2 separate regions of the Homo sapiens genome follow, and region 1 is linked to region 2. Evidence: fine-mapped expression QTL. A gene starts in region 2. The other region holds a variant in brackets. All regions are shown on one strand. Distances are between the middles of the regions. Region 1 holds the start of ZSCAN22 (zinc finger and SCAN domain containing 22). Region 2 holds the start of A1BG (alpha-1-B glycoprotein).

The links.
Region 1: its variant is fine-mapped to the expression of A1BG in whole blood (TOPMed, PIP above 0.99).

What each region holds. Positions count from the first base shown.
Region 1 is chr19:58,325,822-58,337,242 of GRCh38, reverse strand. ZSCAN22 (zinc finger and SCAN domain containing 22) reads right to left here and starts at 10,249. Exons shown (of 3, transcript NM_181846.3): 1 at 10,129-10,249; 2 at 2,038-2,491. The coding sequence starts at 2,440. It overlaps LOC105372480 (a long non-coding RNA gene), which reads left to right and starts at 9,995. Exons shown (of 3, transcript NR_144444.1): 1 at 9,995-10,420. MIR6806 (microRNA 6806) reads right to left here and starts at 2,555; the gene lies at 2,492-2,555. RefSeq lists enhancers at 9,949-10,278, 9,622-10,364. The variant C/T (reference allele first, on the strand shown) is at 8,139.
Region 2 is chr19:58,346,262-58,362,241 of GRCh38, reverse strand. A1BG (alpha-1-B glycoprotein) reads left to right here and starts at 8,750. Exons shown (of 8, transcript NM_130786.4): 1 at 8,750-8,838; 2 at 8,915-8,950; 3 at 9,045-9,314; 4 at 9,687-9,959; 5 at 10,555-10,851; 6 at 11,591-11,872; 7 at 14,602-14,889; 8 at 15,213-15,980. The coding sequence starts at 8,805. The coding sequence ends at 15,220. It overlaps ZNF497 (zinc finger protein 497), which reads left to right. Exons shown (of 3, transcript NM_198458.3): 2 at 3,657-3,753; 3 at 4,593-7,885. The coding sequence starts at 4,607. The coding sequence ends at 6,103. It overlaps A1BG-AS1 (A1BG antisense RNA 1), which reads right to left and starts at 10,272. Exons shown (of 4, transcript NR_015380.2): 1 at 9,198-10,272; 2 at 8,768-8,863; 3 at 8,385-8,528; 4 at 7,059-7,873. It also overlaps the pseudogene LOC100419840. RefSeq lists enhancers at 1-204, 14,151-14,230, 14,447-14,947, 15,001-15,280, 14,948-15,448 and a silencer at 14,421-14,750.

The sequences.
Region 1 (11,421 bases), 23 kb after region 2:
GAGGGAATCCATCCAGAAGCCCACGATGGTGAAAATTTCTGCAAGTAGAACCCCAGGTAGAATATGGCTGCTGGGGGTGAGTACATGAGGTACCCATCTGGCCTCTCAAGCCCCTACATTGTAAAGTACTATGAAGGCAGAGTGTGGCGGAGGTGCTCTTGGAGATCAGAGTGTGCATGAGGTAGAGGAATGCTCGCACTGACCTGCCCTGCATGGGTGCAAAGGACACATAATCTGGCACATCTACTGGATGGATTCCAGGGAGGAGGCAGAGACAGGTGGAATACCCACTGCTCAAGTCCACAGTGGGGCTCAGCAGTGCAGAAACTGGACTCAAACCCCAGGTCTACCACCTTAATCAGTCCTGCCCTCATCTGGGACTCAGTCTCCCCATCTGTAAGCCATGGATGCTGTGCCGCTGGCCTTCCAGGGCCACTAACCACTATCAGGCTCTTGTCGTGCTGGGCCCCAAGCACAGTGGGTGACTTCCATCGCCTCATTTCAGCTTCGACCTGCTCTCAGAAGGAGGTACTGCTGTGATTCTGTTGCAGATGGGGAAACTGAAATCCAGCTGAGGGAAGGTGTTGAGTAACTGGTACAGGATCACAGTTAGCTAGTGGCCCAGTTGGGATTTCAGCTCCAGAATGTTCTCCTCCAGGTCCACAGGCAGTCTCCCCTGCTCCCCCAGCCATCTGCTTGGCCCTGTCTCCCCCTTCCTTCCTCTATCCAGAAACATCACACCACCTGCTTTTACCAGAATACACCAGTGCAAATCACACTGCCAGGCCTTTGACCCCACCATTCCCTCTGCATTTTACCCTTTCTCTGAGCTTTGGCCAACCCTGTGGGAGGATGGGGCCACTCCCTCCTTCCTCTCCCTGTCTCTGTGACATCTGCTTGGGCATAGACCAACCTCTGTTCCAGAGAGGCCTGTTTCTCCCAGAGCTGAACAAATTATCCTAACAGTTGCAGTTACCATTTATTTAATCTGTGCCAGGCACCATTTCAGGTGCTGCACGGGTATTGCCTTGTATCTCGCAACACCACTAAGGTGGGCGTTTTTATTACAATCCCCATTTTACCCATGAGTAAACTGAGGCACAAGGGAGTCACATGGCCAGGAAGAGCAGCAGCGGTTGGATCTACTGAGCCTTGATGATGCAGCTGTATCCAGACTCCACATTCCTCCTGCACACTGCACGTTTCCTCCCAGTGTGTGGTATGCCCACCTCCTATCTGTTGCCAATAGGCCAGGCCAAGCCCATCTGAGACGAGCCACCACTCCCTGCTCTGGATTGTCCCAAGGCTGGGTCTTCCCTGCATCCCACTGGACCTCCCTGGGTTGGGATGTTTGTGTGGGTCTCTGTGAGTAACAGTGCCCAGCTGAGCCTGGGGCAGGTCTGACCCACCCAAATCCTGGAGGCCAGCCCAGGGTGGGCATAGAGAAGGTACACAGGGACATCTGGTATTTCCGTCACCCCCAACAGCCACCCCAGGCACCCAGGCCCTCGTCTGGTTTCCTCTGAGAAACAGCCAGTTGCTCACTGTTAGTCCCTGGGATTTGGTTGGCCAAACACAAACATAAGATCCCAACCAGGCCAGTGGGGGCTCAGACCAGGGACCTCTTATTGTTATTACCCCGGGGTTTCTACATTGGTAAGACATAAGCCTGGGGTTCCTGGCTATCTTTAACCCCTTTGGAAAGAGAACCTAAAATAAGAATGAAGCTAACACAGAAAAAACCAACTGAGAAACAGAACAAGAGAGGAAGAAGAGAGTTCTGATGCTGTCAACAGATCTTCTGGATATAGCCGTATCTGCTGCCTCCTTACCCTTCTTTGCTTCAGCCCATTTCAGCTCGCTTTTGGTCACCTGCAACCAAAACACACCTGTCTACAACAGTGTGTGAGAGTTACGGTAAAGTACAAATGTGAGAATGGGTGCATGAGCAACCCCAAACCAGAGCCCTGTGCTCCCATGTTCCTGTCCAGGGTGTATCTCTGGTGTGCCGTGAAGCTGCCCACGGCGCCCCTTTACCTCTCTTGTCCAGCACCTGAGTCAGATCCTCCACCAGCACAGCGGCTTCCTCTCCGCTCTTGGGACTCTGGGCTCCCACCCAGGCTTGGATCTCTGGGGGCAGCGCACCCAGGAACTGCTCCAGCACCAGCAGCTCCAGTATCTGCTCCTTGGAGTGCGCCTCGGGCTGCAGCCACTGACAGCACAGCGCTCGGAGGTGGGCCAGGGCCTCGTGTGGACCAGATGCCTCCTCATAGCGGAAGTGCCGGAAGCGCAGGCGTGCAGCCTCAGAGTGAGCAATGTGGTCATGGCTGGATTCTCCGCCCTGGGAGAGGCTGGCTTCCTCTTCCTCCTCCACCTTCACTTGAAGGAAGCTGTCCTCTTCCCACGGCACTGGGCTCAGGGAGTGCTTGGGGATGGCCATCGGGCAGCAGTGCTCAGTGAGACACAGGATGCCGGAGCCTTGGAACTGGGCCTGCAGGAATGTCAGAGCTTCAGCATCACATGGAACCTGGGCCCTGCCTCATGCCTACAGAGCAGGGAAAACACAGGCTTGTGGCCCGTGAGATGTGAAAGACTCTCACAAAGACATAGACAATCCTCATAATTAGGACAGCACCCACTTGGTGCTGAGCACTGTTCTAAGCTACTACTGCTTGCATGTAGACTCATTTAAAACTTACAACAAACACCATCCTGGCTAACATGGTGAAACCCCGTCTCTACTAAAAATACAAAACAAATTAGCCAGACGTGGTGGCGGGCACCTGTGGTCCCAGCTACTCAGGAGGCTGAGGCAGGAGAATGGCGTGAACCCGGGAGGCGGAGCTTGCAGTGAGCCGAGACTACGCCACTGCACTCCAGCCTGCGCAACAGAACAAGACTCTGTCTCAAAACAAAAACAAACAAACAAAAAACTTACAACAAACTCAGGAGGTGGGACTTTCTACCTATTTTATGGATGGAAAAACAGACACTCAGGAGGAAAATATTTGCCCAAAGTCCCTCAGCTAGTGAAGGGTTAACAGAGAGCTAAGCTACAAACCCACGCAAACCTACAGCCAGCCTGTTTAAGGCGTGCTCCTCCCCAACAGAGCCAAGTCTTTCTCCCTCTGTTCCCCAGGTAGCCACATGGTCATTCTCTCACTTTACTTGCTAATTATTTTGTAGTGTTTGAGATTGATACATAATTGACTTTCGCCTTTCCTCTTTTCTAATGCACATATTTAAGGCTATAAATTTCTCTCTAAACACAGCTTTAGCTATACATCACAAGTTTGATATGTTGTATCTTCATTATCATTTAGTTAAAAATATTTTCTAATTTCTGTTACAATTTCTACCTTACTCATTAATTATTTTTTAAAATTTATTTTATTTTTTTGAGACGGAGTCTCCCTCTGTCGCCCAGGCTGGAGGGCAGTGACGCTATCTCGGCTCACTGCAACTCCGCCTCCCGGGTTCAAGCAATCCTCCTGCCTCAGCCTCCCAAGTAGCTGGAACTACAGGTGTGCACCACCATGTGAGGCTAATTTTTGTATTTTTAGTGGAGACGGGGTTTTGCCATGTTGGCGGGGCTGGTCTCGAACTCCTGACCTCAAGCGATCTGCCTGCCTCGGCCCCACAGAGTGCTGGGATTACAAGCATGAGTCACCATGCCCAGTCCCATTGGTTATTTATTTAAAACTCTCCTGCTTCATTGCCAAACAACTGGGGGTTTTCTAGTTGTCTTTTTATTACTGATGTCTAGATTAAGTCTGTTGTGGTCAGAAAACATGCTACAATGGATTTCGATCATTTAAAATTTGCTGAAACTTGGTTTGTGACCCAGTGTATGGTTAATTTTGGTTAATGTTCCATGAATACTTGAAAATAATGCAAAGCTGTCTTAGCTATGACACCAAAAGCATAAGTAACAAAAGAAAAAATAAATAAACTGGACTTTATCAAAATTAAAAGCTTTTGTGATTTGAAGGACCACATCAAGAAAGTAAAAAAGCAGCCCACAGAGTGGGAGAAAATATTTGCAAATCATATATTTGATAAGGGACCTGTATCTAGAACAACTCCATAGTAAAAAGATGAATAATACAATTTTAAAATGAGCAAAGAATGTGACTAGACATTTCTCCAAGGAAGATACACAAATGGGCAATAAATACATGAAAAGATGCTTAACATCACTAGCTACCAGGGAACTGCAAATGAAAACCACAATGAGATAGCACTTCACACCTGCTGGGATGCCTATAATCAGATAACATGTGTAGGCAAGGATATGGAGAAACTGTAATCCTCATATGCTGCTGCTGGGAATGTAAGATGGGATAGCCACTGTGGGAAGTACAGTCTGGGAGTTCCTCAAAAGCTTAAACAGAGTTACCCCATGACCTAGCAATTCTACTCCTACGTATAGACCCAAGAGAAATGAGTATATGTCCTCACAAAACTTTATACATAAATGTGCATAACAGCATTACTCATAACAGCAAAAAAGGAGAAACAATCCAAATGTCCACCTGATGAATGGATAAAATGCTGTATATACCTATAATGGAACACTATTCACCATAAACAGAAATGAAGTACTGATTAATGCTACAACATGGATGAACCTTGAAAACATGATGCTAAGTAAAAGAAGAAAGACACGGCAGGGCACGGTGGCTCACACCTGTGATCCCAGCACTTTGGGAGGCCGAGGTGGGTAGATCACCTGAGGTCAGGAGTTCAAGACCAGCCTGGCCAACACAGTGAAACCCCGTCTCTACTAAAAAATACAAAAATTAGCTGGGTGTGGTGGCAGGCACCTGTAATCCCAACTACTCAGGAGGCTGAGGCAGGAGAATCTCTTGAACTTGGGAGGCAGAGGTTGCAGTGAGCCGAGAGTACACCACTGCACTACAGCCTTGGCGACAGAGGTAGACTCCATCTCAAAAAAAAAAAAAAAAAAAAAAAGCATATTAGTGTTTGTCAGAGGCTGAAGAGAGACAAAAATGAGAGTGGTTGCTAATAGGTTTGGGAATTTCTTTTGGGGATGATAAAAATGTTCTGGAGGCCAGGCGCGGTGGCTCACGCCTGTAATCCCAGCACTCTGGGAGACCGAGGCGAGTAGATCACGAGGTCAGGAGTTCAAGACCAGCCTGACCAATATGGAGAAACCCCATCTATACTAAAAATACAAAATCAGCCGGGCGTGGTGGTGCATGCCTGTAATCCCAGCTACTTGGGAGGCTGAGGCAGAAGAAACCCTTTAACCTGGAAGGTGGAGGCTGCAGTAAGCCGAGATTCTGCCATTGCACTCCAGCCTGGGCAACAAGAGTGAAACTCCATCTCAAAAAATAAAATAAAATAAAAATACAGCTTTTAAAAAAATAATGTTGGCCAGGCACGGTGGCTCATGCCTGTAATCCCAACACTTTGGGAGGCCAAGCTGGGCCGATCACAAGGTCAAGAGATCGAGACCATCCTGGCCAACATGATTAAACCCCGTCTCTATTAAAAATACAAAAAAATTAGCTGGGCGTGGTGGCGTGTGCCTGTAGTCCCAGCTACTTAGGAGGCTGAGGCAGGAGAATCTCTTGAACCCGGGAGGTGGAGATTGCAGTGAGCCGAGATCACGCCACTGCACTCCAGCCTGGCAACAGAGACTCCATCTCAAAATAATAATAATAATAATAATAATAATAATAATAATAATAATAATAACGTCAGCTGGACGCGGTGGCTCACACCTGTAATCCCAGCACTTTGGGAGGCTGAGGCAGGTGGATCACAAGGTCAGGAATTCAAGACCAGCCTGGCCAGCATGGCGAAACCCCATCTCTACTAAAAATATGAAAACTAGACAGGCGTGGCAGCGGGGGCCTGTAATCCCAGCTACTTGGGAGGCTGAGACAGGAGAATTGCTTGAACCCGGGAGGTGGAGGTTGCAGTGAGCAGAGATTGTGCCACTGCACTCCAGCCTGGCCGACAGAGTGAGATTCTGTCTCAAAAAAAAAAAAAAAAAAAGTGCATTTGATAATTGTTGGGTGTTCTCTCCCTTATTTAAGTCAGGCCTCTACACAAAAGACGCCTTATCAGTAAGTCTCTGTGCTTCTACACTGCTTTATTTGCTCTTTACCACCTGATGTGTGATACACGTATGTGGTTACTTGTTTATTATTTACTTGTCCCTGTTGGAGTATCAGCACATTAAGGGCAGGGGTTTTTGTTTAGGTCTTTGCTTTATCCCCAGTGTCTACAGCATTGCTGGGCACATACATCAATAATAATACTTTTGTTCAGCACAGCCCCATTAGGTGCCTACTCTGTGCCCAGCACTGTACTAGGAATGCAAATACGGGGAAGGCATGGGTGCTGGGCTCAATGGCCTCAACGGAAGGACAGCGACCAACACATGATAAGATAATTATGATGATGGATATGGGTATAGTGTGCAACAGGAATAAAAGAAAATGGGAACAGACAGTCAGTGGGAACCTACCGGCTACCAGGCCACACTAGCCTTTGGCATCTGTTATCCCATTCAAGCCTTAGCTCCACCCTGTGAGTCAGTATTACCACTCCCATTTTCCAAGTTGGGGAAAGTCAGCTGCTAGAGTCATCTGGTCAGTAGGAACAAAGCTAGTGTTTGAGCTCAGGCTATCTGCGATCTTTCCTCCACACTCAAAGCCTTTCCAAATTCTAGAACTGTGAGCACTGAATGCTGGTCAGGGACAGCAAAAAACTACTTTCATGTACTATTGGTGAGGGCAATCAATTAGAATATCTTTGGCAAACAATTTGGCAGTATGTTGTAAGAGCTTTAAAATGACTGTGCTCTCTGCCTCAATATTAATTCTACTTCTCAGAATCTAGCCCCATTTCTAGATGGGGGTGCTACCGACATTCAGAGGGAGATAATACTTTCTTTTTGAAAAAATTCTTTTTTTCTCCAGACGGAGTCTTGCTTTGTCGCCCAGGCTGGAGTGCAGTGGCGCAATCTTGGCTCACTGCAAGCTCTGCCTCCTGGGTTCACGCCATTCTCCTGCCTCAGCCTCCCGAGTAGCTGGGACTACAGGCACCCACCACCACACCCAGCTATTTTTTTTTGTACTTTTAGTAGAGACGGGGTTTCACCGTATTAGCCACGATGGTCTCGATCTCCTGACCTCATGTTCCGCCCACCTCAGCCTCCCAAATTGCTGGGATTACAGGCATGAGCCACTGCGCCTGGCCGCATGTAGGCAATGCTTAACTTTTTAAGAAACTGCCAGGCTGTTTTGCAAATTGGCTATACCATTTTGCATTCCCACCAGTTGTGGATGAGGGTTCCAATTTCTCTACATCCTTACCAAGGTATTTTATACTATGGTAGTTCCCCCTTATCTGCAGGGGATGTGTTCCAAGACCCTCCAGTGGATGCCTGAAACCATGGATATTACTGAACCTTATATATTCTATATTTTTTTCTTATTATATACCCTTGATAAAGTTCATAAGTTAGGCATAGTAAGAAATTAACAACAATGACTAATAAAATAGAACAATTATAACAATACACTGTAATAAAAGCTATATTAATGTGGTCTTTCTCTCTCTCTCAAAATATTTTATTGTACTATATTCACCAAAACTGAAGATGAGGGGTGACTACTGTATTACTTTTCTTGACATTCTCTACTTCCCACAGTGAATTTGTTTTCTCTTATAGTCAGGAAGAATACCCTAAATTAAGTGTAACCTCTCCTAGGAGACCTCGACACTTTGCTTTGGCCACATACTACTCCTTACTCAAAGACTTAGCCTCTCCCTCTCCCATCCACGACTCCCACAGTTTTAAGTATTTGGAGTTCTTTTTCCTTTCCTTCAATGTCAGCCAGGACGCTCAGTGTGCCTGGAGTCTCTGCTCAAGGAAGTCACCCTGGACAGAGATGCAGGAGGCCTGAGAAAGAGCAATGGCCTTGGGCACAGGAAGAAGAGAACGTTACTCTAAAACAAGACCCCAATCCTGAAACCTTTTGGTGACCGCTGGTGACCTCTGGTGGCCTCTGGCCAAGCTGCGTTTAAGCCCCTTCGCCGCACTGTAAAGTTCTCCTGGGTCTCTTGTGGCCTTTCTAAGCCCCTTGTCGCCCCTGCTG[C/T]TCTCGAGTTCTGAAATCCGTCTCTGACGGATTCCTCTGGGCTCTCTAGGCCTCATCTTAGCTGCCACTTTCCTCAGGTGTCATCCCAGATACCTGGTACTAGTCTAAGTCCTCTTCCCAGAGTGCCCTGGGTAACTCTTTGCTAGTTCTGTACTGTTTCCTCAGAGAGGCTGGGCTGTCCTGGAGCCACAGCACACAGGACTTGCCCTATAGCAGGTTCACAATAAGCAGGCATTAAGCAAATGGAATGACCAGTAAAGGCTGAGCATGGTTACCCAAGAATGTAGGGAATCATGAGGGGAAGGAGGAGCAAGGGTGGCAGGGATGACAATAGATGCTGCAACAGCTTCCAAGTTCTCTTTTGCACCCCTGGAACACCTGTTCTGGAGAAATCCCTCATGACGGTCTCTGAAATACATGTATGTGAAACTTCCTCAGCCTCCTCAGCCAACCTCAACTCCTATCAGGTTGAGGTTCCCCATCCACAGCTGCTTTACCAACCAAGGAGGGTGGTTCTTTTCATTTCTCACACATGGATTATACCAAGCCTGATAATGGTACCTACCTCAGAGGGTTGCTATGAGATTATGTGAGGTGATTTATTATAAGTGTCCAGCACAGGCCTGGTGCACAGTAAACATGCAGTAGATGTATGGATACCATAGCCCCCTGCTACACGTAAGCAAACACTGGGGGACATATCCATAAGCCCAGCTGAATGACCACTAGTCACTCAGTTTCAGCTGCAGACATGGCAAAGCACAAATCCTCTCTCATATGCTTGGTAAACTGTTTGTGGATCACCCAAGTTTTAGTCTCCCTGATAAAAATCTCAGTCAATCAGATATTAACACATATTATCTCAGGTACAGTCTGTCAGCCACAGCCTTCAAAATACCCAGACACAGGAAATATCTCAATGTCACCTATAATCAGTCAAATAAACACAGGCCTGGCCAGGCATGGTGGCTCATGCCTATAATCCCAGCACTTTGGGAGGCCTAGGCAGGTGGATCACCTGAGGTCAGGAGTTCCGGGCCAGCCTAACCAACATGGTGAAAGCCCGTCTCTACCAAAAATACAAAAATTAGCCAAGTGTGGTGGCCGGTGCCTGTAATCCCAGCTACTCGGGAGGCTGACGCAGGATAATCGCTTGAACCCGGGAGATGGAGGTTGCAGTGAGCCGAGATTGCGCCACTGCACTCCAGCCTGGGCAACAGAGCAAGACTCCGTCTCAAAAATAAACACAGGCCCTCGCAGCATTTCCATCACACAGTATTATTCTGATCACAGTCATTCATAATCTTAGTCACCATCTCAAGGACACACAAAGAAAATCAGTCACACTTGAAATCCCACCGTCACACGCTCACCCTCTCACAGTATCTCACAACCCACGTAGGAAGTCTCAAACGGCAACCATCTCTGTCAGTCACACACTCCATGGTTAGTGTTACACTCAACCTATCAGAATCACACACTCCAACCCGTCAGATACACACACCCAAGAGGTGTCAGACACAGAACCGCCTATCAGACACATAAACGGGTCCGCCCCACACCCTCCCAGGCCACTGGTCCTACATTTTATCTGTTATCTGTCCGCCCGCTCCACACTTCGTCCGCCCCACACCCGGTCAATCAGTCCATCCGACACACACTCCGTCAGTCCGACACATTCTCCGTCGGTCCGTCCGGCACTCAGTGTGTCATTCCGCACCACATTCGGTCCGTGAGTCTGTCCACACCGGGTCCGTCAGTCCGTGCACACACGGTCCGTCCACGCCTGGTCCGTCAGTCCGTCACATCCTCTGCGCGTGTGTCCGGCACTCGCAGTCCGTCTACTCACGTCCCCTAGTCAGCCTCTCACTCTCTACCCGCTGGGCGGTACCCCGCATCTCGCTCTGGCCGCCCCAGAGGTTCGCGGCTTCTGGACCTGCTGTGCCCCTCTCCAGCCTGGATCAGGACGGAGAACACCCCCGAAACCCACCTCACCAGCACAGCCGGCGGACCCTTCCGGAGGTGGCCGCAGAGACTAGCCAACTTGCGCGCCCGCCGACCCGGACCACAGCTCCCAGCACACCTCAAGGGCCCACGCCCGCCAGGACTACAATTCCCGGCGTCCTCCGGAAGCTCAAGTGTACCCAGGCGCGGTGCCTGCTGGGAATTGTAGTTGACGTTGGTCAGCACGGAGGCCACAGGATCCCAGCCCGGCCTTTGTGGGACTGAGGTGGCGCTGAGTGGGAGAGCAGCAGGCGATGCGCGAAAGGCGGGACTTGGAGGTGAGGGAAATGTGAAGGCTGAGGGTGAGAGTGCCTGTGTGAGGCTGAGGGTGCCTGTGTGAGGGTGAGGGTGAGGGCGGCTGTGTGAGGGCTGAGGGCTGAGGGTGCCTGTGTGAGAGCTGAGGGTGCCTGTGTGAGGCTGAGGGTGCCTGTGTGAGGCTGAGGGTGAGGGCGGCTGTGTGAGGGCTGAGGGTGCCTGTGTGAGAGCTGAGGGTGCCTGTGTGAGGCTGAGGGTGAGGGCGGCTGTGTGAGGCTGAGGGTGGCTTTGGGAGGGCTGAGGGTGTTTGTGTGAGGGGTGAGGGGTAAGGGTGAGGCAAGAAAATCGGGTCTGGAGGCAGGGAACCTAAGGACTTCCTAGAAGTAAATCAAATGGAAACTGCAGCTATGGTAGGAAATATCCTCTCCATTTATGCAGGGCGTACATGGAGTAAATCACTTTGTAACTTTACTTCGTCCTCTTCATTTACATAGGGCATATACCAAGTAACCAATGGAAACCTCTAGAGGGTATTTAAACCCCAGAAAATTCTGTAACCGGGCTCTTGAGCCCCTATGCTCCGGCCTGCTCCCATACAGTGGAGTGTACTTTCATTTTCAATACATCTCTGCTTTTGTTGCTTCATTCTTTTCTTTGTGCATTTTGTCCAATTATTTGTTCAAGATGCCAAGAACCTGGACACCCTCCACCAGTAACAAGGGTACCTGGGTGAGAGGTGAGGGTGCCCATGTTAGGAGTGAGGGGAGAGGGTGCCTGTCTGAGGGCTTGTGGGTGTGAGTGTCTGTGTAAGTACTGAAGGTGCCTTTGTGAGAGGTGAGCGGTGTGGTTGCCTATGTCAGGGTGTGTATTGAGTGTAGCTATGTGTGGCTCTCTGTGAACACATGTAATCATTTTTATAAATGTGTATCATTTTTTACTGAATTTGAGCTGGGCGTCTGTCTGCATGAGTCACTCTGTGACCAGGTTTGTGGGTTGTTCTGTGTGCTTACTCTGCGTGTGTGTG
Region 2 (15,980 bases):
GCCGCAGCTTCCTCCCCTTTATCCACTCCGTATTTGTTTGTCCAGCCTAGGCCTTGGGGGTTGTGGGGGAGACACAAGTACCCGTGACTGGTCGGACAAGTGCCCGTTGTTGGGGGCGTGGGCGCTGGGACTGACGCGGGAGGTGGCTCTGATCATGTCGAGGTGAGGAGGAGGCGTTGAGGCTCAGAAAGGGCACGCAGCGTGGACGTGAGGACGTCGGGGAGGCTGGAGCAGTGAGGCCGACAGGAAGGACCTTACGGGGCTCACATGCTATCCCACGACGAGGACGGACTCAGGACGGCAGCCCTGATAGATGCGGCTGGGGGCTGGCGGGTCGGGGTCGCACACCACAGGATGGAGGGGCAGCGGTGCCTGGCTCCGCCTTAAGAAACATGGGCCCTTGGGGGACCCGGATTTCTGATACTTCAATACACAAATATGGATTTTTATTGAAATCAGATGTCGTTTTTTTAAAATTTAACTTTTGATTTGAGGTAATTATAAATTCACATGCAGTAACAAGTAATGCATACCCTATGTACGCTTTACCCAATTCCCCTAAAGGTGGCATCTTGAAAAACTAGAGGCCAGGTGCGGTGGCTCATGTCTGTAATCCCAGCACTTTGGGAGGCCAAGGCGGGTGGATCCCTTGAGCTCAGGAGTTAAAGACCAGCCTGAGCAACATGGTGAAACCCCATCTGTACTGAAAACACAAAAATTAGGCGGGTGTGGAGGCTGGTGCCTGTAATCCCAGCTACTCGGGAGTCTCAGGCAGGAGAATCGCTTGTACCCAGGAGGCGGAGGTCGCGGTGAGCCCACATCACGCCACTGCACTCCAACCTGGGCAACAGAGCGAGACTCTGTCTCAAAAAAAGAGAAGAGAAAGAAAAACTAGAGTACAATATCACAACTGAGATGCAGAATATTTCCATCACGAAGGATCCCCGTGTTGCCCTTACAGAGCCGCATACCCTTCCCTCCTACCTCTGCTCCCCGTTAACCTCTTTTTGTCAACTAGTAATCTGTTCTCATTTCTACCATTTTGTCATTTTACGAATGTTGCATAGGCTGGGCGAGGTGTCTCGCGCCTGTAATACTAGCACTTTGGGAGGCCGAGGCGGGTGGACCATCTGAGGTCAAGAGTTCAGGACCGGCCCACCGGCCGGGTGCCGTGGCTCACGCCTGTAATCCCAGCACTTTGGGAGGCTGAGGCGGGCGGATCACGAGGTCAGGAGATCGAGACCATCCTGGCTAACACGGTGAAACCCCGGCTCTACCAAAAATATAAAAAAATTAGCCGGGCATGGTGGCAGGCGCCTGTAGTCCCAGCTACTTGGGAGGCTGAGGCAGGAGAATGGTATGAACCCGGGAGGCAGAGCTTGCAGTGAGCCAGGATAGCGCCACTGGACTCCAGCCTGGGCGACAGAGCAAGACTCTTCTCAAAAAAAAAAAAAAAAAAAAAAAAAAAAAAAAAGAGTTCGGGACCAGCCTGGCCAACATGGTGAAACCCCATCTCTACTAAAAAATAAAATAAAATAAAATAAAATAAGCCAGGCCTGATGGCAGGCATCTGTAATCCCAGCTACTGGGGAGGCTGAGGCAGGAGAATCGCTTGAATCCTGGGGGCAGAGGTTGCAGTGAGCCGAGATTGCGCCACTTCATTCCAGCCTGGGTGAAAGAGCGAAACTCCGTCTCAAAAATAGAAAAATAAAAAATAAAAAAATTAGCTGGGTATGGTGGCACGCACTTGATGTCCCAGCTCCTTCGGAGGCTGAGGTGGGAAGATGGCTTGAGCCTGGGAGATGAGATTGCACCACTGCACCCTAGCCTGGATGACAGAGCCAGACCCTGTCAAAAGAAAAAAAAAAAGAAAAAGAAAAAGAAATGGAGTCATACAGTTTTTAAGCTTTTGGGATTGGGTGGTAACTTTTTTAAAAAACATAAATACCATACAATTCATCCTTTTAAAGTGTGTAATTCAGTGGTTTTTGGTATATTCAGTGTTGCACAGTCATCACCACTAATTCCAGAATATTTTCATCACTCCCACGGCTGTATCTCCCATTTCTCTCTTCCCTGCAGATCCTGGCAACCGCTGATCTACTTTCTGTCTCTTACAGACTTATCTGTTCTGGACATTTCACATAAATGGAATAACATAATATGAAGTCTTTTGTGTCTGAATTTTTTCATTTACACTTAGCATAATATTTTCAAGATTCATCCATCTTGTAGTATGTATCAGTATTTATTCTCTTTTTTTTTTTTTTGAGACAGAGTCTCACTTTGTCACCCAGGCTGGAGTGCAGTGGCGCGATCTCGGCTCACTGCAACCTCCACCTCCCGGGTTCAAGCAGTTCTCTGCCTCAGCCTCCCGAGTAGCTGGGATTACAGGCGCCTGCCACCACGCCTGGCTAATTTTTGTATTTTTAGTAGAGACGGGGTTTCACCATGTTGGCCAGGCTGGTCTTGGAATTGCTGACCTCGTGATCCACCCACCTCGGCCTCCCAAAGTGCTAGGACTACAGCCGTCAGCCACCGCACTTGGCCTAACTTAAATTTTTAAAACACTTCCTGGAGGGGACAAACAGGACCCATCTGCTGGTCTGACTCTGGGTGTCCTGTTCACAGTCTCTGTCTTAGTTGTTCTGTGTGTGGGATGAAGGGTGCCAAGGAGACAGGGCAGGGCAGGGACCCTCAAGAAAAGCGGGGAGGCGGGGGGAAGGGATGGTACAAGCAGCCATGGCACCTCAGTGTGTCCCTCAGGCACCTGGACACACAGGTGGGCAAAGATGCTGACACTGGGGGCCAGAAACGCCGATACCCCCATTCTTCCATTTTTACTCAGTCTCAGGTGGTCCCAAGGAGGGGACCTTCGTGGCCTTGCTGTGCTCACAGGCTCACCTTTGTGTTTCCAGCTGCAGAGAAAGTACCCTGGGCCATGCAGCTGCACTCCCCTCCCAGGAAAGGGGCAGGATGGCTGCCCAGATGAGTGAGGCATCAGCCCTGGCCCCCCAGGTCTTCCCGAGTCCACTGGAACTGATGGTGGGTGAGCCCAGCTCCAAGAGCCCTGGCCAGTGCTTCTGGGGGTTCTGCTATGAGAAGGCAGCAGGGCCCCGAGGGGCCCTGGCTCAGCTGCGTGAGCTGTGTTGCCAGTGGCTGATGCCTGAGGCCTGCTCCAAGGAGCAGATGCTGGAGCTCTTGGTGCTGGAGCAGTTATTGGGCACACTGCTCCCAGAGATCCAGGCCTACACGCAGGAGCAGTGGCTAGGCAGCCCTGAGGAGGCCACTGCCCTGGCAGAGCGGCTACAGCAGGAGTCAGCTGGGCCAGGACTCCAGATGAGTGGGGGCTGGTCTGGGGGCTGGGTGTGCTTCCCCTGCTCACGACCCCAGCTGAGCCAGCACTGGGGCCAGTCGTGGGTTGGTGGCTGAGAGGGCCTGGGGGCTGTGGGAAAGTGATGGTGACAGGTGGGAGTTTGGTGGTCTTGGCTTGGACGGCAGAGTCAGAGATCTCCAGTCCACACCTGTGTGCTCCGCATTGTGTCCTGAGAACTGAAGGTGCAGAGAAGGGTGGGTCATGCCACCGCATGCCCCTTGTTTTCTCAGATCTGCTAGGCTGAACACCTCACCCTGCCCTGCTGCCTTCCTGTCCCCAGGTGCCAGCCCCCAGGCCCCAAGAGGAGCTGGTCCCCAGGACAGAGGAGGGAGAGGAGCAAGAGGCTCCCCTGGGCCCCTTCCAGGCCCCACCTCCAGGTATGGCACCATCTACACACTTGTCCCTGCCCTGCCTTGGCAGCGGGGCTGGAGACTACACAAGGATGATAAGGTGCTCAGGGCAAATGAGGATGGGTTTTGCTCGCTGTAGAGACTTCGCTGTGGGAAGGATCGGCTGGACAGGCAGGCATGGCCTTAGGACCAAGGAGGCCCTCCCACCCTTGGCCTCTCTCTCTCTCAGGGATCTGGGCTGCACAGCCACCCCATGCCTTGGACCACCTGGTCTGACCTGCACAGAGGCCTGGTGTGGACATTGCCTGGGTAACAGCCACTGAGATCCTCCAGCCTGGACATGCTGCCCATACTGTGTGGAGGGGACTACCCAGGGATCCGGCCAGGGTGGAGTGGGTGAGGCAGACATAGCTGTGTTTGGGTCAGGCGGTGTCCTCCAGCCTTCAGGAATGGAGACGGGTCCATCGTGTTCCTCACAAACTGGAGTCTCCACCTTCTTGACACTTGGGGCCCCACCCTGTGAAGCAAGGAGAGGAGAGTGGTGCCACAGTAGGGCCAGTGCAGGTGCGTGGGCAACTTTGAGTCCTTCTGCGATGCTGGCGCCCCCTCCCCTCCTGCTGGGCCGGGCCGGGTGTGGGGATGTGCACGTGGCCCTGTCAGGCAGGCCCAGAGTGCTGGCCCATCCCCCGAGTGTCTAGCCCGCCTGCTGGCCTTCCTGCTCCAGGCTCCAGAGGGCATTGGGCATCCAGGGACCTGGAGGAGAAGAGTGGGGGATGACAGCCCACCCACCGTCGTGTCCCCCTCAGGCCCTCTGTCTGGTGTTCTTTGTATTCTCTAAGGTACTTGCCTTTTCTCTCCTGTTTTAGGTCACAGGCGCGAGATGGAGTCCCCAAGAGGGTGGACCCTGCAGGTGGCCCCAGAGGAAGGCCAGGTCCTCTGCAATGTGAAGACTGCCACGAGGGGCCTCTCTGAGGGGGCTGTGTCTGGAGGCTGGGGGGCCTGGGAAAACTCCACGGAGGTTCCGAGGGAGGCAGGGGACGGCCAGCGGCAGCAAGCCACACTGGGGGCGGCGGACGAACAGGGAGGCCCCGGCAGGGAGCTGGGCCCCGCAGACGGTGGGCGGGACGGGGCTGGGCCCAGGAGCGAGCCTGCAGACCGGGCGTTGCGCCCTTCGCCTCTCCCAGAGGAGCCGGGCTGCCGGTGCGGGGAGTGCGGCAAGGCGTTCAGCCAGGGCTCTTACTTGCTGCAGCATCGGCGCGTGCACACAGGCGAGAAGCCGTACACGTGCCCCGAGTGCGGCAAGGCCTTCGCCTGGAGCTCCAACCTCAGCCAGCACCAGCGCATCCACAGCGGCGAGAAGCCCTACGCTTGCAGGGAGTGCGGCAAGGCCTTCCGCGCGCACTCGCAGCTCATCCACCACCAGGAGACACACAGCGGCCTGAAGCCCTTCCGCTGCCCGGACTGCGGCAAGTCCTTCGGCCGAAGCACCACGCTGGTGCAGCACCGACGCACGCACACGGGCGAGAAGCCCTACGAGTGCCCGGAGTGCGGCAAGGCCTTCAGCTGGAACTCCAATTTCCTGGAGCACCGGCGCGTGCACACGGGCGCGCGGCCGCACGCCTGCCGGGACTGTGGCAAGGCCTTCAGCCAGAGCTCCAACCTGGCCGAGCACCTGAAGATCCACGCGGGCGCACGGCCACACGCCTGTCCCGACTGCGGCAAGGCCTTCGTGCGTGTGGCGGGGCTGCGGCAGCACCGGCGCACGCACAGCAGCGAGAAGCCCTTCCCCTGCGCCGAGTGCGGAAAGGCTTTCCGCGAGAGCTCGCAGCTCCTGCAGCACCAGCGCACGCACACTGGTGAGCGGCCCTTCGAGTGCGCCGAGTGCGGCCAGGCTTTCGTCATGGGCTCCTACCTGGCGGAGCACCGGCGCGTGCACACGGGCGAGAAGCCTCATGCGTGCGCCCAGTGCGGCAAGGCCTTCAGCCAGCGCTCCAACCTACTGAGCCACCGGCGCACGCACTCGGGCGCCAAGCCCTTCGCCTGCGCCGACTGCGGCAAGGCCTTCCGCGGCAGTTCCGGCCTGGCGCACCACCGGCTTTCGCACACGGGAGAGCGACCCTTCGCCTGCGCAGAATGCGGCAAGGCCTTCCGCGGCAGCTCCGAGCTGCGCCAGCACCAGCGCCTGCACTCTGGCGAGAGGCCGTTCGTCTGCGCCCACTGCAGCAAGGCCTTCGTGCGCAAGTCGGAGCTCTTAAGCCACCGGCGCACGCACACGGGCGAGAGGCCCTACGCTTGCGGCGAGTGCGGGAAGCCTTTCAGCCACCGTTGCAACCTCAACGAGCACCAGAAGCGGCACGGGGGCCGCGCTGCGCCCTGACCCGAGGACGCCCTGAGCGGGAGGTCGCGGACACACGGCATTGCGGGGTCTCGGGCGTGAGTGCGCTGTCTGCTGGCCCAGACTTTTTCGGGCCGCCGGTGCGGGCGCCCTCCTGCTGGGAGTGCAGGGGCGGCCTTGGGTGTGGAGAACCCTGGCTGCACAGTCCCTTTGACGATAGTCCACCGGCCACCCAGGCCTGTCTGGGGACATGTAGGATGGGCTCTTACCCCAGGGAGGGCGGCAGGCTCCACTTCGGCGAGAGGTTCGTCCATGCAGAGGTGGGCAAGAACTGGGGTCTCCGACAGGTGTGGCTATTTCTTTGAGTTCTCTGGCACTGTCAAAAGCAGCCAACCCACCCCCCAGTCCACATGGTCACCACTGCTGCTACCAGCTGCTCAGTGCAGTGGCCACTGTGTCTCCTAAGGTGCTCGCTTCAGTCAGCACTTCATCTCAGGCAACCACAGGTGACAGTTAAACATGATGAAACCGCATGCTATGGCTTTCTAGTGTCTCATATTCTGTTGGCAAGAAGCTCAGCACTGCATTCCTGACCGAGGTCAGAACCAGATCAATCTCAGAATCTCACCTGTGTAGGTCTGTTTCATGGGACTTTTCTTTTTTGGGGGAGGGGGCAGGGTTTCACTCTGTCACCCAGGCTGGAGTGCAGTGGTGCAATCACTGTTTATTGCAGCCGCGACTTCTTAGGCTCAGGTGATCCTCCCACCTCAGCCTCCCAAGCAGCTGGGATGACAGACTTGCGTCACTACACCTGGCTAATTTTAAAATTTTTTGTAAGGACAGTGTCTCACCATGTTGCCTAGGCGGGTCTCAAAACTCCTGGGCTCAAGTGATCCTCCTGCCTCAGCCTCCCAAAGCGTTGGGATTATAGGCGTGAGCCACCGCACCTGGCCAGGGAACCTTCTTTATACCAAGTACCACACCAGTCAGAGTCAAGTCAGGAAATAGAAACCACACTAGGTATTTCAAACAGAGGGGATATAAGTTAGGGACTGATTGTGCAGGTTTTGCAAGGCTCAGAGAGCAAAAGTGGATGTTGCAGAATCTCAGAGCTGGATACTTGCAGGAAGCTGCTACCACCCTTAGGGCTGGAGAACCCAGGGAAGCTAAGAGGAGGGTGCAACGAGGCTGGTGTTGGGACTGCCAAAGGAAACACAGAATGACAGCTCCATCTCTGCAGACCTCAGATTTGACCAGGCCTCTGGCTGCCTGGGCAGCCTCATTGCCAATGGGCTGAAAGGTTCTGTCACTGTTCAGTGGTCTGACTTCTGAGTTCTGTGCACACCCTGAGCTCTGCTCCTCTGGCCTGGCCACCAGTCCTTGTCTGAGTGCCCCAGGTCTGGTTATGACTTCAGGCCTCAGCACCTGGTTGTCTCTTCTGCAAAGAATGCATTCTCCCCCAGTCCACCCAGAACACACAGCCTCCATCCAGGTACTGGCTCTGAGCAGGACAGAGAGCATGCAGCAGGTGCTCAGCAATATGGAAATGGGACCAAACAGAGGGAGTCTCCACAGCTCCCCGTCCCTCACAGCAGAAGCCAGAGCCGCTGCAGTGCCCAGCTGGTCTTCATCACGTCTATGAGCTCTGCAATCGCTCTGCAGTCGCCTCAACTCCTGGTCTCCTCTGCTCCTTCTCACTGCACCCGCATCTCCCATGTTTGCACTGGCTGTTCCCTCTGCCTGGAATGCTCCTTGCCCAGTTATCCCACTGTCTTCTTTGCATCTGGCACACAGTAGATGCTCAATAAATGCCTGTGGAATGAATGAGTGGGGAGGATGCAGTGCAGGGGGCAGATGAGGGCTAGGCGGTTGCCCTGGGCCCTCACACTCGTAGCGGAGCTAGGCTGGGACACCCAGGGTGGGGACCAGACCTCCCCGGGTGGGAATGACAGGATGTCCATGGAGGCTGAGTGTGAAAGCACCACGGTCTCACCCCTGTCCTGTTCCATCCCAACAGGCTGTGGTGAGGAGAGGGGGAGGCAGGGGAAGCGGGAGGCCTGGCCTCCAGGCAGCAGGCTATAGCCACATGAGTGACCACCAGCAGCTCAGGTAACTGAGCACATGTCACGGGTAGGCCTGGGAAGCGCAGGTCTCAGCTGAATGACCTGGGTGGAAATCCGACTCCAGAGCCGTGGTGGGTCACACCATGCAGAATGAACCAGTGATGGAGAAGGAACCACAGTCCTCAGGAAGAGTGAGGGTGCACCTCCAGACAGCCCATGTGAGGGCAACCGCAGAAAGTCTGAAAAGAGGTGAACCCCACCTTTGGTGTCACATGTGCAGTGTGGTGTGACAGGGAGGGGCTCGCTGGGCTTCAGCCCCGGCACTCTCCACTTGACCTCAGCAGCTCCAGGTAGAGTGGGGAGAACTCAGCGTCTCCTTCTAGAACAGGTTCTAGGATCCATCACTGAAATGAGGATGAGGTGGTTTTAACATCATTTTATCACTCTTGATTTAGTTTATTAATCATACATGATTATTGATTATAATTGTTGCTGGGCATCCTGAGGCCTCAGAAGTTCACCCTTTGCCCTGACCCCATGGGGGCCCTGCCCCCGCCTTCCGGGAAGGACAAACACGGGAAGAGGTCAGTGCCCGAGCCACCCCACCGCCCTCCCTTGGGGCCTCATTGCTGCAGACGCTCACCCCAGACACTCACTGCACCGGAGTGAGCGCGACCATCATGTCCATGCTCGTGGTCTTTCTCTTGCTGTGGGGTGAGGCCTCCTGGGGTCTGGGTCCCTGGGGCGGGAGGGGGCGGGAACAGGAGCCTTACGGGGGCTGTCTCCGCAGGTGTCACCTGGGGCCCAGTGACAGAAGCAGCCATATGTGAGTGCAGGGGTGAGGTCTGGGAATGGTGGGCCCAGGCCGGGGGGGAGCCCTGTCTCTGTGGCACTGAGCTGATCCCAGCCACCCCTTGCAGTTTATGAGACGCAGCCCAGCCTGTGGGCAGAGTCCGAATCACTGCTGAAACCCTTGGCCAATGTGACGCTGACGTGCCAGGCCCACCTGGAGACTCCAGACTTCCAGCTGTTCAAGAATGGGGTGGCCCAGGAGCCTGTGCACCTTGACTCACCTGCCATCAAGCACCAGTTCCTGCTGACGGGTGACACCCAGGGCCGCTACCGCTGCCGCTCGGGCTTGTCCACAGGATGGACCCAGCTGAGCAAGCTCCTGGAGCTGACAGGGCCAAGTGAGCCGGGGCATGAATTGGGGGCCAGGAGGCAGTGGGTAGGTTGTTGACTGGGGGGTCTCCCTTCCTCCAAGTCACCCGATGTCTCTGAGCCCCAAGCCCCAATCTTCCCATCTGTCAAATGGGGATGATGTCTGTGTTGTAAGGAATACATGGTTGTGTCCCCAGCAGGCCCGGCATGCCGTACAGCTCCCACACACTCTTTTTCTCTTGCCGTATGCCTTGTTTCCACTGGTGCCTGCCTGCCTTTTCCCAGCAATGCCCTCCATCCCTGTCTCCTTCACAGTCTTATGAGTGTGGGGCCCAGGTTCTGCTGGGCTTCCCACGTCTCCTGTTATGCAGAAGCACTCTTCAACTCCACCCCACCCACAGAGTCCTTGCCTGCTCCCTGGCTCTCGATGGCGCCAGTGTCCTGGATCACCCCCGGCCTGAAAACAACAGCAGTGTGCCGAGGTGTGCTGCGGGGTGTGACTTTTCTGCTGAGGCGGGAGGGCGACCATGAGTTTCTGGAGGTGCCTGAGGCCCAGGAGGATGTGGAGGCCACCTTTCCAGTCCATCAGCCTGGCAACTACAGCTGCAGCTACCGGACCGATGGGGAAGGCGCCCTCTCTGAGCCCAGCGCTACTGTGACCATTGAGGAGCTCGGTGACTGTGGGAACCATCTCTGGGGGCTGCTGGGGGAGGAGGATACAGGGGGCATGACCACATTCATCCTGACCTCCATGCTGAATGTCCTTGCCCAGGACCAGGTCCAGGAAGCTGGCCACACGGTTGCCTGGGTCTGATGGTTGCAAAGGAGTTTGGGCAGAGGATGCCCAAAGAATGGAAGGGTGAGGCCGGGTGCGGTGGCTCACGCCTATAATCCCAGCACTTTGGGAGGCTGAGGCCAGCGGATCATGAGGTCAAGAGATCGAGACCAGTCTACCCAACATGACGAAACCCCGTCTCTACTAAAAATACAAAAATTAGCCAGGTGTGGTGGCAGGTGCCTGTAGTACCAGCTACTCAGGAGGCTGAGGCAGGAGAATCCCTTGAACCTGGGAGGCAGAGCTTGCAGTGAGCTGAGTGGCGCCACTGCACTCCAGCCTGGGCAACAAGAGCGAAACTCCGTTTCAAAAAAAAAAAAAAAAAAGAATGGAAGGGTGTTCCTGGGATTGCCACCCGGAGGGCAGAGGTCTGGGGACTGGGCAGAGGGCAGCTCCAGGGATGGGGCAGCCTAGTAATGCTGCCTGCATTGCAGCTGCACCACCACCGCCTGTGCTGATGCACCATGGAGAGTCCTCCCAGGTCCTGCACCCTGGCAACAAGGTGACCCTCACCTGCGTGGCTCCCCTGAGTGGAGTGGACTTCCAGCTACGGCGCGGGGAGAAAGAGCTGCTGGTACCCAGGAGCAGCACCAGCCCAGATCGCATCTTCTTTCACCTGAACGCGGTGGCCCTGGGGGATGGAGGTCACTACACCTGCCGCTACCGGCTGCATGACAACCAAAACGGCTGGTCCGGGGACAGCGCGCCGGTCGAGCTGATTCTGAGCGATGGTGAGCCGGGGCCAGCAGGGACAGGGACGCGGCTGGGTCCCTGGGGAGCAGGAGCAGTACCAGGTGTAGAGTCTGGGGAAGTGCAGTGCTCTGGGCCAGGGTCCAATACCAACTTTATCCGCCCACCCGCCGATTCAGGGTCCTAAACTGCAAATATGATGATGAGCGTGACAACCTTCAGGCCCCACAGGGAATAACTGGGTGAACAGGTCTGGCCCAGGCCACAGGGGGCACCACCTGGCAGGTCCCATCCCAGCTGCCAGGTCTAGGTGAGCACTGAGGGCCTCTGCTGAGGCAGCTCCTCCGCTCGCTTGCCTTGGACCTGATGGTATTTAGCAAACTCTGAGCACCGGACAGCGAACCCCATGCCCAGCGGACCACAGGGGCCCCTCCGTGGGGCGGGCATTGGGGCGGTGCTCAGAAGACGCTCGTGGAGCAAATCCACTACTGAGCGGCATCGTGCACCAGGCATCAAGCCATGCACAAAACATGTCCCCGTCCCCGCTTCCCGTCTGTGTCTGTAGACAAACAAATTACTAAGAAACAGTGAAAGGGTGCGTGTGAGATATCCAAGGACTGGGATGCAAAGGTGGGGCGGGCCCGGAGGAGGCGAGGGAGGAAGCTGGCCAGGTCATTGCGGGCAGAAGACTCAGCCAAGGCAAAGAGCGCGAGGCCAGACCACGCGTTAGGGCCGAGCCAGCCGCTGGGCGCCCGGGTCAGCCCGTGTGCTGCTCCGCAGAGACGCTGCCCGCGCCGGAGTTCTCCCCGGAGCCGGAGTCCGGCAGGGCCTTGCGGCTGCGGTGCCTGGCGCCCCTGGAGGGCGCGCGCTTCGCCCTGGTGCGCGAGGACAGGGGCGGGCGCCGCGTGCACCGTTTCCAGAGCCCCGCTGGGACCGAGGCGCTCTTCGAGCTGCACAACATTTCCGTGGCTGACTCCGCCAACTACAGCTGCGTCTACGTGGACCTGAAGCCGCCTTTCGGGGGCTCCGCGCCCAGCGAGCGCTTGGAGCTGCACGTGGACGGTGAGCTGGCGGGGCACCAGCGAGGGCGGGCGCGGGTTCAGTGCCCCTCGGGGCCTCCTGTCTTTCCCCTCTTTCCTTGGGCGTCCGACGGCGGCGCTCTGGGCCTTGGTTCAGCCCCCATCGCCTACCCCGGCGGGGAGCAGGCGATCGGTGGTCGAGGGTCTGGGGACGCCTGGAATTTCGGCTTATTTCCCACGGACGCAAGCCCGTAGGTCACGTGTAGCGTGGTGGTCGGCAGCAGGGAGGCTGGCCCCAGGTTTTCTTGTTCAGATCCCTGCAGCTCTGTGGCTGCCTTGTTTTATTACTGGCCATGTCAGTCGTCATACTGGACCCCCCGCCCCGGCCCCGGTCCCGCAGGCGCACGGCTGATGTGTCCTTCTCCCCATCCCCGCCGTCCCCAGCTCTGTTTGTCCCTCTGATTTCCTCATCGACGTCTCCAGGACTCAGAGCCCAGCAGAGCGTGAGGGCACAGGTCTGACCTCCAGATCTTGAGGTCGTACCCTTTGCTGGGAGCACCGTTTTCTCTTTTCTTTCACTTTCTTTCTTTTCTTTCCTGCCTTCCTTCCTCTTTCTTTCTTTCTCTTTCCTTCTTTCTTTCTTCCTTCCTTCTTTCTCTCTTTTCTTTCTTCTTTTTTCTTCTTTCTCTCTCTCTCATCTCTGCCCCCCAACCCCATCTCTCTCCTTCATTCCTCCCTTTTCTTCTCCTTTTTGTTTTTTTTTTGGATAACTTACTTTTATTCTTGCAGGCCGGAGTGCAGTGGTGCAGTCTCAGCTCACTGCAACTTTCGCCTTCTGGGTTCAGGCAGTTCTCCTGCCTCAGCCTCCTGAGTAGCTGGTATTAGAGGCGCATGCCACCATGCCCACCTAATTTTCGTATTTTTAGTAGAGACCGGGTTTTGCTATGTTGGCTGGGCTGGTCTTGACCTCCTGACCTTGTGATCTGCCCGCCTCTGCCTCCCAAAGTGCTGGGATTACACTTGTGAGTCACCATGCCCAGCCTATTCTTGCAGTGTTATAAGCCACCATCCACAATTGATGAAAAATGTTTAATCTTGGCCAGGCAAGGTGGCTCACGCCTGTAATCACAGCACTTTGGGAGGCCAAGGCGGGTGGATCACAAAATCAGGAGTTCAAGAGCAGCCTGGCCAACATGGAGAAACCCTGTCTCTACTAAAAATACAAAATTAGCCAGCTGTGGTGGCACATGCCTGTAATCCCAGCCACTTGGGAGGCTGAGGCAGGAGAATTGCTTTAACCCGGGAGGTGGAGTTTGCAGTGAGTCCAGGTCATGCCACTGCATTCCAGCCTGGGCAACAAGAGCAAAACTCCATCTCAAAAAAAAAAAAAATGTTTAATCTTTAAATTGTACATCTATATCCTATGACTCCAAATTTTATTTATCACTCTCCTTAAAGTCTGAAGAAAATGATTAATTTACTAAGCTCCAAAGACAACACAGTCCCACTGACATAACATTTAGTATGATGTCCTACTCTCCTGTTAGAATTAAGAACAGCCAGTATCAAACTGGCCTGAAATCTGATTGGGTTCCTGGGCTCAGAATAACTGTAGTAAATTTGTAAATCCACACTAAGACACAAAATTAAACTAGGATGTGTATATCTATCTTACAAGAAAACGTTTCACAGTAAAAATTAACATTATGATTTTACCAAATTTCAACATTATAGTTTGTTAATCCAATCAAGCTTTCAAAATTCCTGATTAGCTTACAATTAATTGCAAATAACTTCATGTAGTTTGGCTAGCATTTCAAAATGGATAGGGAATATAACTTTTAAAATGCGAAAGTATATTATACATATTGCACTTTTCTGCTAGGCTGGGCTAGTATCTTCCATGGCAAGATACTCAAACTATTGAATAAAATACACATTTAAATCAAGCACTTACATGTACTTCATTAATTTCCCTGAAATTATCAACAGCATTACCAAAATCTTCCAGGATTTTGTAACATTTGATTCCTTACAGTTTTGTTTTGTTTGTTTGTTTTTGAGACGGAGTGTCACTCTGTCACCCGGGCTGGAGTGCAGTGGCGCAATCTTGGCTCACTGAAACCTCTGCCTCCCAGGTTCAAGCAATTTTCCTGCCTCCACCTCCCGAGTAGCTGGGATTACAGGCGCACGCTGCCACGCCCGGCTAATTTTTTGTATTTTAGTAGAGACGGGGTTTCACCGTGTTACCCAGGCTGGTCTGGAACTCCTGAGCTCAGGCAATCCGCCTGCCTCGGCCTCTCAAAGTGCTGAGATTACAGGTGTGAGCCACTGCGCCCGGCACCTTAAATACACTTTTAAAGTTAAACTTATGGAGGGAAAACCCTCATCTATTGACATAGATTGTATGTCCTTTTTTGGTCCCTCCATGAAGGAGCACCGTTTTCTCCATCATTTCTTCTTCCCTTCACCCGTCAGAGTGACCGAGGCTGGGGACCCCAGAAGCCCCAGAGCAGGCCCGAATCTGGGACTTCCACGGTCCTGGGGGAGGGGTGCGGGGACACTCACGTGTGGCGCGGATGTCCGGGGTGTGAAGGCAGCGGGCGCAGCTCGGCGGCGCCGGAGGAGCCCTCTGCGCCCAGGAACAAGACAGGGAAGATGAAGCCGGGGCTGAGGCGCAGGCGCGGGCGCGGCCTGGGGTGTGGCCTGGGGTGTGGCCTGGGGCGTGGCCTGGGGCGTGGCCTGGCCCGACCACCCGCCCGCTCCGCCCAGGACCCCCTCCCAGGCCTCAGCTCCGGGCGACGTGGAGTGGGGCGGTCCTGGCGGGCCGAGATGCCGTCCTGCGCTGCGAGGGACCCATCCCCGACGTCACCTTCGAGCTGCTGCGCGAGGGCGAGACGAAGGCCGTGAAGACGGTCCGCACCCCCGGGGCCGCGGCGAACCTCGAGCTGATCTTCGTGGGGCCCCAGCACGCCGGCAACTACAGGTGCCGCTACCGCTCCTGGGTGCCCCACACCTTCGAATCGGAGCTCAGCGACCCTGTGGAGCTCCTGGTGGCAGGTGACGTTTCCCTGGGTCCCGGGTGCTGGTTCCGTCTGCTGATGTTTGCCTGGGCTGTGCCCACCTCCAGGAGGGCCTCTCCCGGCTCCTCCCTTGGGCACCCCTGGTTAGCGCTGGGTCTCCCCAGGGCTCGTGGGGGAATTGCGGGCGAGGAACCGCCCAGCAAAGGCCCTGCAGCTGGAGGCGCAGATGGGGGTCTCGGCTGGCAGCCGACCACGCGCTTCCTTCCGGGGGGGCGTCAGGGAGGTCGGCCTTGATTTCCGCGAGGAGGAGGGCATAGGATTTCCCCTCCTCCACCATTTCTCTTTTCTCCCGTTGTCTAGAAAGCTGATGCAGCCGCGGGCCCAGGGTGCTGTTGGTGTCCTCAGAAGTGCCGGGGATTCTGGACTGGCTCCCTCCCCTCCTGTTGCAGCACAAGGCCGGGGTCTCTGGGGGGCTGGAGAAGCCTCCCTCATTCCTCCCAGGAATTAATAAATGTGAAGAGAGGCTCTGTTTAAAATGTCTTTGGACTCCCAGGGCTGAGTGGGCTGGGATCTCGTGTCCTCAAAGTGGATGGGTTCTGGGGTGGCTCCTGAGGTAGAGGAGTGGAGAACTGGCTCTTAAGAGCACAGTTTTCTTTTCTTTTTTCTTTTTTGAGACAGGGTCTCACACTGTCACCCAGGCTGGAGTGCAGTGTTGCAGTCCGGCTCACTGCAGTTTTGACCTCCCAGGCTCAAGCGATCCTCCTGCCTCAGCCTCCCAAGTAGCTGGGAGCCTGGGCATGCATCGCCACGTCTGGCTAATTATTATTTTTTGTAGACAGGGTCTCACTGTGTTGCCCAAGCTTGTCTTGAACTCCTGGCCTTAAGTGATCCTCCCACCTCAGCCTCCTGAGTAGCTGGGACTACAGGCATGAGCCACCATGCCTGGCCAACTCACATTTTTCTTTCTATTATTTATTTTTTGTAGAGATGAGTCTCACTATGTTGCCCAGGCTGGTCTTGAACTCTTGGGCTCAAGTGATCCTCCCGCCTCAGCCTCCCAAAGTGTTGGGATTACAGGTGTGAGCCACAGCACCTGGCCAACCAACACTTCTCAGGGCCTCTTTCATC